Homo sapiens: one gene and its partners. The protein of the gene in region 1 purifies or fractionates together with the protein of each later gene. This does not show direct contact. Each region holds a gene or a part of one and is shown in the gene's direction. Other genes may lie near its edges. The genes, in order: RABL2A, POLA1, FHIT and AKAP11.

Region 1 (4,062 bases):
TCTCATGTCTCCCTAAAACCAAGCTGTGCCCTGACCACCTTGGGCACATGTCGTCAAGACCTCCTGAGGCTGTGTCACGGGTGCACGTCTTTCTAAATTACCTGAAACCATCTCAGATAGGGTTCACACATCCCTTTCCCGAACCCTCCCAGGAGCCCCTCGTGGGCGCCCAGGTCCTGCCTGCTGTTGTGGCCCAGGCTCACCTGGAGCAACTCGACTCTTCGTTACAGCCTCGTGAACCTTTCAGTTCCTAAAGCTGTCTAGCCTGTGAAAGGAAAATGAATCTGGGGGCCCCAAAATCACTAAGCTAAAGGGAAAAAAGCTGGGAACTGCTTAGGGCAAACCTGCCTCCCCATCTATTCAAAGTCACCCCTCTGCTCACTGAGATAGGTTAATATGTGATAGCCTCCTTTGCGGAGGCTATTCAGAAACCCGAAAGAATACAACAGTTTGTCTCTCACCTACCTGTGACCTGGAAGCCCCCTCCCTGCTTCGAGTTGTCCCGCCTTTCCCGAGGGAACCAACGTTCATCTTACATATATTGATGTCTCCTGTCTCCCTAAAATGTATAAAAGCAAGCTGTGTCCCGACCACCTTTGGCACATGTCAAGACCTCCTGAGGCTGTGTCACGGGCGTGCGTCCTCAACCTTGGCAAAATAAACTTTCTAAATTGACTGAGACCGTCTCACATATTCGAGGTTCACAAGCCCATGCATGGGGACGTCCCCTGGGGTAGCGCCCCTCCTCCACTGAGCTCACTCGCTTCCTCCTTGTGTGTTTTCTTCAGAAGAAATTTCACAGCTACTTGGTCCACACCTGTCTGCCCCACAGGAACCTCTCTTCTCCACAGGCACATGGGCGGCGTACCTGCTGGGCTGTGTGGAGAGGACCGGGTTCCTCTCCTGATTCCTGCTCAGTTAATAACGAATGTCGACAAGTCGAGAAAATTGCTCAAATTTACCCCATCAAAGAATTAAAAACTGGTGAAAGCTTGACCTGCGCCCCCCACCCCTGACGTGCTCACCGCTCCACTCCCTCTAGGCGGGCGGCACCCGCTGAAGCCTCAGTACCACACCCACAGCCAGGAGCCCCAGTCCCGCACTCGGCCGCATGCGCACTCCCTGCGGCCCTCCCGCCAGGCGCCGCGCTGGGCAGCCAGCGCCCCGGCGGGGTCCTTCAGGCCTTCGGCCGGGCAGCCTCCCTCGGGGTCCTTGCGCGGTTGCGTAGCAGCTGCGAGGACGCGGGGCGAGCCGGAAGTGGAGTGCGCTGCGGTGCGAGCTGGGCCGGCGGGGTGGTTCGAGAGCGCGCAGAGTCCAGACTGGCGGCAGGGCCCGAGGGGCCGACCCGCAGCGTCCCTGGTCTCTCCAGCCCTCACTCGGAACCGCACGTGAGGGCAAATCCGCCCCGGTGGCTGGCTTAGCACGCGGGGACAGCCCCTCCGAGGCCTCCCTAGCGGTGTGGGCGAGAGGGCGTCCGGGTCGGGGGAAGCACGGAAAGGTGGCTTCGCGAGGCTGTTGTGGGGGGCGGGACGGGCAGCCTGGCGATGCCTGGACATGGTTGGTGGCCAAAAACATTTATCGAAAGATAGCATACCCACTTAGATGGCGAGGACATCGACAAGCAAGTCTTCGCCCGTAAGCGGTGGCTCACGCCTATAGTCCAGGGATGCCGAGGAGGGAGGATCGCTTGAGTCCAGGAGTTGGAGGCTGCAGTGAGCCGTGATCGCGCCACTGCACTCCAGCCTGGGCGACAGAGTGAGACCCTATCTCTAAACAAAAGAAAGAACGTCTTCAAGCATGGAGCCATGAAGCTGGATTTGGCTTTCTGTCGCTCTCTCTACAGGGTACAGGTGAAAGGGGGCAGACCCCTCATCATGCTTTCCAGGCATCTGCCACTTCCCAGGAATTGTCTCCCTGGATAAACAAGGCGAAGTCCCTGGCTGTGCAGAAGCAGTAGCTGTGTGGTGGCACAGTCAGGAAAACTCGGGGGCCCTGTTGGTATTTTCTACCCCTGACCCGTGTGCATACTTCTGTCGTAGCTCTCACCACAGTAGACTCTGCTATCATTGTGTCTTCCATCCTCTGAACCCTGTGCAAGGTCTGCTCATGGTGAATGCCCAGTAAGGCTCACCTATTGCTGCTATCTCATCATCATATCATTTCTATGTGCCCCCCTAGCTAAGAGTCTGGACTGTGGTTACATTCTCAGGAATGTCTGCAAAGTCATATTTAGGTGTGAGGAGAGTAAAACAGAGCTAGACATAATGTTGCACACAGCCTTTGGCACTGGATGCCTGGTGAATGTCTTGTGCAAATGGGTAACGTGAGGAGCAGCATTTGGGGTGCGCAGGACTTAACTATTTGTGTATAACATATTACTGATGCCTGTGTGTCATCCTCTGCTACTCCAAGTCTAGTAGCCAATTGCATACCATATCTCAGTCTGGCACTGAGGGAAGCAGTCTGGATGGAGGTACAGCTGGAGATTTGGTTGAGGGGACTTATCTCTGACAACAGCCTCTTGTTGATCTTCCCAGACAGTGACAATACCCTCCCCTCCCTTGGGCTGGACCCCTCTCTACAGCTAGGAGCCAATGGCAGAAGACAAAACCAAACCGAGTGAGTTGGACCAAGGGAAGTATGATGCTGATGACAACGTGAAGATCATCTGCCTGGGAGACAGCGCAGTGGGCAAATCCAAGTATGTTGGGAGATTAGGGAATAAATACCAGCCCCAGAGAGGGTCCAGGTCATTTAAAAAGTCCTCCAGAGGCAGAGGAGCATGGCTTCTTGGGGCTGGTGAAGGAGCAGTCTTGGCTGGAGCCCAGATGTTCATGGGGGAACGAGGGGAATCACATGACCCGTTGTGTGTGTCGGGTGGAGGGGGCAGGTCATAAGGACTGAGGAATTTGAATGTTTCCTCTGAGCCCTGAGAGAACGTGTGGAGCAACTGAGGACATTGTATGTGGTTTGTGGGCTGAGGGATGGCAAGGGCGGGGAGTGGGAATGGAAAGACAAAAGTGACTATGCCACCGTGACAGATTGGGTAAAGGTGGTAAAGATGCTTTCTTGGAGGGACTCTCTGAAATAGAGAAAACTGGGTAGAACTGACGATTGACTATAATCATTGTGAAGACTGGCTTCTTCTTGTAATGAATTTCGGTGCCTACATGCCACCTGGAGAGGTGAAGGGAGGCTCTGCCGTGCTGCCAGCTTGTCTCCATGAGACGTCCTAGTTCTCACGCCTAGGACTGCTGAGGGCACATGTCCATTTCCGCCTTCATAGCATGACGGTACACTTGCCCCTGCCCAGAGAAGTGGTCACGTTTATCTCCCAAGTACTCCAGGCCCACCTTGGTTTCTACCTTCATTTTTATAGTCAAGTCCTTTGACTCAGGTAGCTGTGAATAATTCTCTGGGGGCTTTGCTGGTTTTTAGGCCATCTCCATGAATTTGAATTCTCTGTCTCTCTCTCTCTCTCTCTTCCCCACCACACAATCACACACTGCAGCTCTGGTTTAGAATTTTTTTTTTTTTTTTGAGACGGAGTCTCGCTCTGTCCCCCAGGCTGGAGTGCAGTGACGTGATCTCGGCTCACTGCAAGCTCCGCCTCCCGGGTTCACACCATTCTCCTGCCACAGCCTTGCGAGTAGCTAGGACTACAGGCGCCCGCCACCACACCCAGCTAATTTTATTTTTGTATTTTTAGTAGAGACGGGGCTTCACCTTGTTAGCCAGGATGGTCTTGATCTCCTGACCTCGTGATCCGCCCACCTCAGCCTCCGAAAGTGCTGGGATTATAGGCATGAGCCACCGCGCCCGGCCTCTGGTTTAGTATTTTATAGTTACTTTGACCATCCTCAACAGCACGCCTGTACAGTAAAAGTGAGGGTAGGTGTTGTAGTTTGGGAAGGTTACCCAATAAATAATACCCCCTTTATCCCCACTCAAGTTTAAAACAACAAAGAATAGAAATGGCAGGCAGGTGTAGAGCAAATTGCCACTTTAATAACAAACAGAGCTTTCGGAGAATGTATCTTGGTATACCCAGCTCCCAAGTTC
Region 2 (3,352 bases), on another chromosome or scaffold:
CTCATTCAGCCACTTCACAAAAAATTATTTTATTCCATCTCTCAGTGATGATGACATGATTGCTTTTTGGTAATCATTTACCATTCTGATTTTATTTTTTGAAGTAAATTGTCTGAAGTAATAGGTTCTTGGAATTACAGCGTGCCTTGCTTTTTTCTTAGAACTTTATTTAAGCTTGTCTTCCAGCATTTAACCCGAGTCCCCTCTTTCGTTTGATCTTCTAACTTTATTTATACAACAGTGCTTAATGATCCTGCACAATGTGTTTCTTTTTTTTTTTTCCTTCTCTACAACCTCCCCCCCCACACCCACCCAAAAAAAAATTCTGTCCAGTATGGTTGACAGTACTTTTTATAACCTCAGCAAGGGGGCTGCATGGGCAATTTTCTTCCGACATGACAAATGCAAACACCCAAAACCCAACCCTGAGAGAATCACTTCATCCAGTTGAAAGGAAATTTTTTATCTCTTTCAAGGTGACTCTTTTGCCACTGAAACATGGTAAGGGGCACGACTCTTACCTTCTATTCTTGTCTATAGAAGTGGCATTCTTTACATTGCTTTATTCTGTCTCCTCCCTTCTCGCATCGGCCTCTGCTCTTCCCCAAACTTCCACTGAACAACCCTTCCTGGTAGTTGGGCCCCATGGCACCTCCATTTGCTTTGAGTGTGAAGGGTCACTGTTCACCACCACCAGGCTGCAGCAAGCCTGTGTTTATTGAACATGAACCAGACCAATGGTGGAGAGAATTATAATCACACTTCTAAATACTTGTCAGATCAGCCTACAGCCTAGTAGAGCACTTGAGCTAAACCATGGATATTTTATTCTTCTTGAAGGCTGTATTTTGGTATCAACATAAAAGAAGAAAAAAGAAAGAAAACTGAAGATAATTATTTCTAAGTAGGAATGGAACTGGATAGTGGACTAACAGACTCTTCAAGCCTTCAGAAATATTTTAGCATCTAAGATGTGATTTAATGGGTGAGAATGGTCCTCTAGGCATTGGCTAATTGATAGACACATTGATCACTGTGTGTGCCTGGCACTGTGCCTTGTGAATTTTTTTTTTCTAAATAAGAATTGACTCAAAGATTATTTCTTTTCATTTCTTACTTTGAGAAATGTTTATGTACTTGCCATTTGATTTGGGGCCCTAAATGTCTTTGAGTTTAAAATATGGATGTCACTTGAAATCTTTCAGGTACTGTGCATAGCCGGAAGCTCAGTTATATGGATCGATATTCAGGAAAAAGGCAGGCCAGAGGCTCCAGCAGCTCTCTGTAGGTCGGATGGCTCTACGTGTAGAGAGCGTAGAGGGGTGCAGTTTTCTTTCAAATTTTTCTAAAGCTTCCTGCATTCCACCCCTTACTGCAAAGCTCACGTTGCATTGAGGGAGGGAGGCTATGGATTGGAAAAGGTGGGAGAACTGAGAACTGTATGGTGGGAAGCCATGCAATTAAAAAACTGACTGAAATTATTACCTGATTTCATAATTGACAGAATATTTAATTCAGATATAGTAAATTGACACACCTCTACACAGAGACAATTATGACTGACTGTATAACACCTGACAGAATCAATTATAACTGACTGTTGTTTGATACCTTTGTACAGAAATAAATGAAACAGACATTCAGAACAGAGACGGCTGCTGCCTGTGTGCCTAAGCCTGCCTTAATTAAAAGAAAATAACCAGTAGGCGATGTTAAAATGTCTTTGCCTCGTGGTTTCTAGTTCAGTGTGTTTCTTTAAGTCCAAAAAGGGTTTTATAAAGAGTAAAGTTGAAAAGAGATTTTTGGTTTACTGACATGGAACTAAAATATGTGAAGTAGAGTTAGTTTCCTTAGATGGGAGAATACTCCATTATTTTAATAGAGCTAGCATTTTATTTGATCAGTTGACTTTTATATAAAATATTTAAGAAAGGTCAACCTACAGATGATGGTCTAGTTCATCCCATATAGAAAAGAATGTAACTTTCATTATTTTGAGGTTTTAGATTCTAATCAATAGAAATCAACTTTTAAATGAGCAGTTCATTTTGTAGTCTGATAAAATATTTTGTGAATAATTAGTATCTAGGCTACCCTTTTTTTCCATCGTTTTCATAGGGGTTAGGGACAGAATATTTTTGGTAATTAACATATAACCACAGGGAATCAGAGCATGTAGAAAGGATCAGAGTAAATAAGCTTTATATACACGTTCCTCGAATGTTATTCTCAAGAAAAGTTTAAAAAGGAGATTAGCTTTGCTGATGTATTAAGATGAGTGATTTCTGGGTGATACTTCAAGCCATTAGAGTATATTTCAGTGACGCACTTGTGTGTAGGAAGAGCATTTCCTCCCCGATCTCGACAAAGGTTGGCTTTGTGGTGCTGGTGGCGGAGACAGCAGTTACCAGGGCCAGTGGCATCTCTGTGGACAGGGATGGGATGGCTGCGGATCTTCTCTGGCTCTTGCCTAATGGCATGTTGGAATCTTTTAACAGTTGTTATTGGGCACCTGACCTGCAGCACCTGAGGTGATGGCGTCGTTACTGATAGGCTGACTCTCAAAATCAAAGCAGGAAAAGGAATCAGGGTTTTACTGGCCACATTAACTGGCCTCCACCAGTTAACACCTGTATTTTCCCTTGAGTTCTAAAGTGGTGGATATAGTATTGACAGAAACAGGGTAACAGTTTAATGTGAGGCCTAACGTGGGTGGCCCAGGTGCCTAAAGGGGGAAGAGAAAAACCAGGAAGGGGTGACTCCTTCCCCCCACCAGCCCCTGTCCCTGACGCAGCCTGTGACAGCTAGTCCAGTTCTGTTTCCTAGAAGACCTTCCATATGTTATTGATTAAATTCTCTTTGGGGAAGCAAGTGGGAGCTTTTATCTGCATCTCTAACTGGCGTGGAATGGTGCCTTGGCCGTATTGACTGGCTATGGGATATGCTGGCGGTCACAGTTGTCTTTTAGGAGGAAGAGCACCGAGTGACGCTGGTTGTCATTCTAACTCTGCTGTGTGGCAGCGTAAATAGTCCCCTTTCTAACCAACCTGGTGGGAAAAGTCAATATCCCATCAGCAGAGGAGGTAAACACATCAGGAGCTATGTCCTCTCTTTTCCTCCCCTGCTCCGTATTACCGCAGCTCTTTAAATGTGCTCTCCCCAGTCATCAGATGCATTTGTGTCATTCACATGCACGGGGTTGCTGGCCTGTGGCTCTGGCCTGCCGGGAGGCAGCCGACACTGGTTGGGGCCATTGTTGTTTATTCCCAGACTCAGATCATTAGAACTTTCAAATTGTCTTTCTGTTGCAGCCCCCCTCTCTTTTTCCACCCCTTTTGGGCATTTTAATTCT
Region 3 (3,568 bases), on another chromosome or scaffold:
GAGGAGACTGCAGTGTTGGGATGGATGAGTGAGTAGGTTGCCAGCCCAATCCACTGGTTAAATCACTCCCCAATTTTTAAAGTCCAGTTTAAATCTCATCTGCTCTAAGAAGTCGCCTTTGGTTTTCATCTACTGTGAGAAATCTCCTTGTCAGCTATACAACCTAAATTATAACTATTGACCTTCGCTTCCTTTAAAAAATATTATTGCTAAAAAAACTCTATACTCTAGATTATAGGGAGAAGTGGTAACCAGTTCCACAAGTTTTCACACATGATATGTACTGGATAAAACATTTATTCAATTCAATATAGTAACTTTAATTCTTTAAAGGTTATCCTACATGTTGGCTAAGAAATCTTGACAGAGGAGATAATCCCAAGCAAACAGGATCCAGAAGTAAATGTGTCTTCATAGCCTATGTATAATATGGAATTTACCCATTAACAAGGCCTAAGAGGCTCCAAATTAAATTATATTGCATCTGTGATATTATTTTAAAACAATTGGCATATAAAAAGTGGCATTAGAATTACAAAAGCTATCTGCTGTTCTTCTAATTAATTTGCTTTCCCTGAGTTGTTTTTCTAGGAGCAACATGCAAACAAGCAAAATTGACAAACAATAAGTTTTTTTATGGTGTTGAAAAAAAACATTTTTGGATGTCATTGATATTACTAAATTTACATTAGATACATAGGTTGTCTGATTTATTCCACCAGTTTTCACAGTAAGCCATTGTTGAAGTGAAATGTCTTCCTCCCCCACCGAGTTGCTGTGTGTGAACATAGCCTAACATAGCACTTATGGACTTCGTTGGAAGCTTGCATGGTTGTCACCCTTGCTGTGGTTTGGTGAAGTCAGGCCTAAGTGAGGGTGTAATTCAAATCAGGGAGGAGGAATATGGGGAAGGGTCCCTTTTAACACAGAAAAAGCAGCTTCGTGGGAGTGGAGGCTGGCAATCTGCTCAAAGGAAATGAAAGGAAATTCTTCATTTCTAAATGGTTCATTGACCCATGATAATAAAGCGGGCCTGCCAAAGATGGATAATTATCTTTTTAAGTATCAGATGCCCTGTGGGTGAACGCCTCCCTTCTCCTCTCTTGAAAAATGAACTCTGATTTTAAAAATGCTTCTTTTCCTAGTTTACCATTGACATGAATTTCCTGATTATGAGCAAAATTAATCAGTTTCTTCTTTCTCTTCCCCTCTCTCTTATGGAAATCAGGCCTGACCAGCTGAGCTCAGTTGTGTTTCCCCTTGGGCTCTGAGTTCTACCAATAGCGGAATGGGGTTGATATTCTAGTGAGACTAGCAATTGCAGAATTATGGTTTTATTATGCCCCTCAGCTGCTTAGCTCCAGGCAGGAGCATGCTGTCTTAAAACAACAAGAAAAAAGAAACAGAAAAACGTACAAGAGTTTGTTTCTCTTGTTAGTATCTAAAAACTAAACAAATATTTATATATATAGTGTGTGTATATACACATGTGTGCATACATGTGTGTATAGTGACTGAAATGTTATTGATGGTGTAACAGTGAATATTAATTTCCTATCAAGAAGTAATCAAATTTCTATCCTTTTTTCTCAGATCTTATATGTTGCTGAGACCAATAGTGTAAATACGTTGCCTTGTCTAACTTGTAGAATGCATTAAGAATGCTTTATTTGAATAAACAGACAACCTTTCGTTCATGATTTACCTTCAAATGTCTTCTTTTGGATTCTAAAAAAAAAATTAGTCTGAGGAACTCTTGTCATAAATTGCTTAACCACATGGCACCTCTCTTAGTTATGGATAAAGTTCACTGTACATTTTCAGAATGTCTATACTCTTTTAAAAATAAAATAAACATCTACTTTTGTATGTTCATTGCATAATTTTCTTATTTCTCTAAAGAGATAATTTAAATTAAAAATTTATCCCCATGTTCTACCTAGAGAAACCAAGTAGATATTCCAGTTGCTTTTTCAACCTAGTGCCTTTGGCTGCTGAAGCGGACACAGCTTTAGAATAGGGGTCAAGAGAGAATGATCTAGAATAGATCTTGCCTCCTCGCATAATTATCTCACCATACACTTGAGTCTGTCTGTACACGAATGTCCCTTTCTTTTGCAAGAAATTCTTCTGCATACCACAGCTTCTCCTTCAAAGTGTAATTATCCATGTATGGGAGCTCTCTTTCAACTCTCTGGAGTTCAGTGGATGGTAAATATCTGTTTCTTCATTCCTTAGTCTTTGAGAGTTCAGGCCCTGGTCCGAGAGGATTCAATCCTGTGGGTATGAACTGCTTGGTAAGAACACTACCCAAAGCCAGCAGCATGGGCCTTAACAGACCTTGCTACAGATGTCCTTGTGTGCCCGCTGCGGCCAGTGGAGCGCTTCCATGACCTGCGTCCTGATGAAGTGGCCGATTTGTTTCAGACGACCCAGAGAGTCGGGACAGTGGTGGAAAAACATTTCCATGGGACCTCTCTCACCTTTTCCATGCAGGTGAGTGTACAGATTTCTCAGAAATGATTTTTCTTCCCTTTCATATCCCGGCATTGGGCTTGCTCCTCCTGATATCTTACCAGGAGGGCAGATGTGATTGTTTGTATTTTAGGTAGCAGCCAAAAAAAGAGATTTCTAATGCAGGGCAACCCTACTGTCCATTGGCCCCAAGATGGACCGTGGGATAGTGTCTAAGGTGATGTCTGAGGCTTGTTTACCAAGCAGGTGGGAGTAATGGATAAGTGATTTAATGGACATTCAGACATTCCAAATTGCTTACTGGAACTGGGACTGGAAAAATCATTTTCATTCCATGGTAACTAATTTTTGAGCACTGCATAGACTAAGCCCTGCTCTAATTCCAGGGTGGCAGTGATATGCAGCTTAGGTTGGGCCTTACCTTTTGTCTGTCTTTAATTCAAGATGCAGAGATTGATCACAGATTAGTTAGAAGCTAGATTCACTGGTTGGGTGTGGCCCACTGACCAGTGAAGAAATCAGATCCCCAGTCACTGAAGATTTTTAGGCAGAGGTTGAGCCAACAGTTGTCAGGTTGGGAGAAGGATGTCCATGGTGAGTCATCAGTAGGGAATTGAGTAAATCCGTAGTAACATACCATGAGCTCCTTCAGGCCCTCTATGGAAAGGGCTGGGGTATCAATGTATAAAGTCCTTCATGGCTCTGAAATTGGATGACTCTGTAATTGCCCTTTAGAAGGACACACTTTCAAAATGTGAGGACTCTGTACTCAGCCTGTTAGTTAAACTGAATGTTTGCCATTCTTCCTCCCCTCCTTAGCTCTTTACCATAGAGCTTCAAAGAGACCAGATAAAGAAAGCCAGTGTTTTCAGGTTATGAAGGCTCTGACTAAAAGTGCTCATCTTCTTCTCAAACAGATTTTTTTCTTTCTTTTTTTGCTGCCATGTCTGTGTTAAGAGTAGCTAAACTTCCCCCAAATGCTTTGTGTGTATGTGTTGTATGTCAAACCATTTGAGTCCCCTTCAGGCAGGTAGTTCAGTTCAGAGTGGGTTTATCAAGCTTATGTTGCAAACCGTGTTTCTGGAGAGACTAA
Region 4 (3,568 bases), on another chromosome or scaffold:
GAAAGTCTTCAGGCAGTTACTCTTCCAGTTTTTCTCTGGAAGCACATGGTCTTATGTCTCTGCTACTCACGCAGGTCTGTTCCAGTTTCTTTCAGATTGGCCTTCTCTTTAAAGCTCTTGGTTTCCACTTCCCCAAAACTTTGATTTGCATGAGACTTTGGTTTGCCATGATGCCAACATCAGACTCACTGACTATGCAACATGGTTCTCAGCAAACATCTCCAAGTCTCAGTTATGTTTCTAGAGAGAGAATCCAATTGGTCAGGTTTCTGCTTCTAGCACAGTTGGCTGGAGAGTGAGGAAAGATAGGAATGGGAAAAATGGATGAGGAAGAGACTTAGATTTGTCTCACAGTTTGCAGGGCTGCTCCTTTTAAACTGGCCATGCCAACATATTTAACAAAAGGAGAGTGGACAGGGAGGAAGTGATGGATACCTCAGGTGTGCTTTAACATCCTGCAATTTGAGTTCTTCCTCTGGCATTGCATTGAACTTGCTCTCAGCTTGGTAATGTTCTAACCAGATCTAACCAGTAGTCTCTTTACAGGACAGATTCTCCTGGGTGTGGGAGTTCAGGCAAATTACTGAAATGCTTGATGACTCAGTTTTCCTATGCGTAGAATGGGCATAATAGCACCTTCTGTGGTGAGAATTATGAATTCATGTATGTAAAGCAATTAAACAGTGTCTGGCATATGGCAGGCACAATGCAAGGGTACGGTATTAGTATTTGTTGAGAGCATACCGTGTGGCAGGTACTGTGATACAGGCTTCTGGTCGTGTTCAGAGAGGAAGGAATTTCTGCCCTCAAGAAGTCTAGAAGTCCAGTGCTGACCACTCATGCTTAAAACCATTTCTTGACTTCAGTGACACTAAATTCTTCTAAATCTCTACCTCACCTACCTTTCTGACTGCCATTTATTTGTGGTTCCTTTTATGCCGGTCCTGGAACCCTTTATCATGGTTGTCTTCATAGATGCTCTCTTGAATTTCTGTTCTTTCCCAGTCGCTGAGACCAGCTTTCAGGTTCTCTATATGTGGATTATTCTTAGAGTAACATCTCCATCTCTGACCCCAAGTAAATCTCTTAATTTTTAGTTCTTTTTTTGGGTATTATTATTTATATAATTTATATGTTTTGAGACATGGTCTTGCTCTGTCACCCAGGCTAGGGTGCAGTGGCGCAATCTTGGCTCACTGCAACCTCCTCCTCCCAGGGCTCAAGCGATTCTCCCTTCTCAGCTTCCCGAGTAGCTGGAACCACAGGTGTGTGCTACCACGCCTAGCTAATTTTTATATTTTTTTAGAGGTGGGGTTTCACCGTGTTGGCCAGGCTGGTCTCAAACTCCTGGGCTCAAGCCGTCCACCTGCCTTGGCCTCCCAATGTGCTGGGATTACAGGTATGCGCCCACTGTACCTAGCCTCTTGGATATTCCTATGTTGATATAAAATACTGTCTTCCAGTTACCTTCTAATTTGCAAAGCCTTCTGATTTACCTTCTGATTTGCAAAGAAAAAAATTTTCTTTCAGCATCCCAGGCTTAAAACCTTAAAGTTATTTTTCACATTCTTCTTTTTTTATGCTGTAATATACCCTGTTAGTTAATAGGTTCTGTGTGGGCTTTTGGGTGCTTCCTATGACTGGCCCATCTGCAAAGTAGATCTGTTGACTTATTTCGGCTACTGGCAGCTTAGGATAGATCCTTATATCTGTAAGAGCTACTTAAATGCCTTTTCAGCAATATACTCTTAGAGTCATGGCGTCATAGATGTCACTGATAAAAAGAAATGTGTTCCTGGGTTAAAATTCTGAACATATTTTCTGTTAGAAATAGTCTTGTGGATAGGGCTACGTACAAGATTAAGAATGTTACTCCATTTTCTAGGGAGCATATTCATGTTGAAAGCACAATCTCAAGATTTTAGTTTTTTGTTGTTGCATTTTTTTGTAGGTATTCAATTACATAGCATTTTAATTATAGCATATCATCCTTATAATATTGCCATACACATATACAAAGTTTTATTATAAATCAGTTGTTGAAAATATTTTTGAAAGTCAAATATATTACAGATGCACACTCAATAGTGAAACTAAGATAATCATTTGAGGGCATATATCCTTTACAGTGATTTCTTAAAACTGTATTCAAATGTAGGTCTAATGAGTTTTTTATTATGAAAATGTTAACTGTTTTATCCTCCTGCCTTCATCTGATTATTCTAATTAACTTCTAACAATGGACCGTTGCATGTTTAAAAGTTGTGTTTATTGTTGCTGAATAAGTAGTTTTGAAGTCAGTAGCCATTCACACTTAGTACTTTGTCAACTAGACCCATGTTATTCCTTTCAATACCAGTGGCTAGTTGGGCTCAAACATACCTTATAAGTAGATCTCAATCTGGAATGCAGTTGAAAAATCAATAATTTTTCTCTGTGACTGTTTGGGAAAACAAAAGTGACAGAACAAATATTCTTGGATTAATTTTGTAAAAAGTCATTAGGTAAGTGGCCCTATTTTCTATTTGGTGATGTTGCTTTTGCCACCAAATGCCTGTCTGCATTCACGTCATTGATGAAATTTCTCTTCACCGTACAGCTCGTTCACTTCAGTAAATCTATAGTTGCTTATTATGAGTAAGGCCTTTGGGGAATGCAGAGATGAGTAAGGCATGGCGATGGAATGAAATTCACTGTTGTATCCCAATCACTGTTACTTAGACGCTTGGTGAATGTATGTGTTGAACGTTGGTAGTACTTACAGTCCAGTGCAGGGCATAGACATGTAGACATTTAACTGTTACATAAGGCACTGTAGTCTAAAGTGCTAAAATAGGGTAAGTGGTGATTTTGCTCCCCAAGGAAATGTTTGGTAATATTTGGAGACAGTTTTGGTTACTGCAACTGAGTGCTACTGGCATCTAGTGGGTAGAGGCCAAGGAAGCTGCTAAGTGTCCTACCATGCATACACAGCCTCCTACAACAAAGACTTATCTGACCCAAAATGTTAGTAATGCTGAGATTGAGAAACTCTGTAGCGGTAAGAACATATATATTGTGAATGCAGGAATGAGGTTGAGGATTAAAAAGGAAAAAGGCAGAAACTATAAAGAAGCAAATATCTTAATAGATATTAAGACATACTAAAATCATTTTATACGATTGACTGTTGTTTTGAAAAACAAAATAGTATCTGATAGCTGTAGTAGTTTTAGATTTTGTAAGTCAAATAACAGGTCTGTACCCAAGAAAGGAACTTAGCTTCCTTATTTGCAAAAAGGGGGATAACATCACTTTTATTCTGCTGTTCACCTATTAGGTATTATTCTGTTTTATTTTTCTAGTGTTTGTGTTAGGGTTTACAAGATAACTTATTACAGGTTTTCTTCAAATAACATCACTTCATGTTTAATGTAGAAATCTATGACAGTCTTTTTTTGTCTCCATCTCCCCTGCCACATTTTTTATCCTATTTTGTCATACATTTTATCAATATGTCTGTCTTAAACCCTCTAATTAATTGTTACTATTTTTAAACAGTTATATTTTAACTGTTTAAAAGGGATTG

What was found.
Region 2: the proteins of RABL2A (region 1) and POLA1 purify together in Homo sapiens (affinity purification with mass spectrometry, with the first as the bait; one large-scale study listed by BioGRID). This does not show direct contact.
Region 3: the proteins of RABL2A (region 1) and FHIT purify together in Homo sapiens (affinity purification with mass spectrometry, with the first as the bait; one large-scale study listed by BioGRID). This does not show direct contact.
Region 4: the proteins of RABL2A (region 1) and AKAP11 purify together in Homo sapiens (affinity purification with mass spectrometry, with the first as the bait; one large-scale study listed by BioGRID). This does not show direct contact.

What each region holds. Positions count from the first base shown.
Region 1 is NC_000002.12:113,626,013-113,630,074, forward strand, and holds the start of RABL2A (rab-like protein 2A), read left to right. Parts: upstream 1-1,253; 5' UTR 1,254-1,388; exon of another isoform or gene 1,389-1,456; intron 1,457-1,602; exon of another isoform or gene 1,603-2,541; 5' UTR 2,542-2,594; coding exon 2,595-2,701; intron 2,702-4,062. UniProt on the Homo sapiens protein: Plays an essential role in male fertility, sperm intra-flagellar transport, and tail assembly.
Region 2 is NC_000023.11:24,990,901-24,994,252, forward strand, and holds part of POLA1 (DNA polymerase alpha catalytic subunit), read left to right. Parts: intron 1-3,352. UniProt on the Homo sapiens protein: Catalytic subunit of the DNA polymerase alpha complex (also known as the alpha DNA polymerase-primase complex) which plays an essential role in the initiation of DNA synthesis.
Region 3 is NC_000003.12:60,012,935-60,016,502, reverse strand, and holds part of FHIT (bis(5'-adenosyl)-triphosphatase), read left to right. Parts: intron 1-2,238; exon of another isoform or gene 2,239-2,285; coding exon of another isoform or gene 2,286-2,297; intron 2,298-2,350; coding exon 2,351-2,496; intron 2,497-3,568. UniProt on the Homo sapiens protein: Possesses dinucleoside triphosphate hydrolase activity. Cleaves P(1)-P(3)-bis(5'-adenosyl) triphosphate (Ap3A) to yield AMP and ADP. Can also hydrolyze P(1)-P(4)-bis(5'-adenosyl) tetraphosphate (Ap4A), but has extremely low activity with ATP.
Region 4 is NC_000013.11:42,275,125-42,278,692, forward strand, and holds part of AKAP11 (A-kinase anchor protein 11), read left to right. Parts: intron 1-3,568. UniProt on the Homo sapiens protein: Binds to type II regulatory subunits of protein kinase A and anchors/targets them.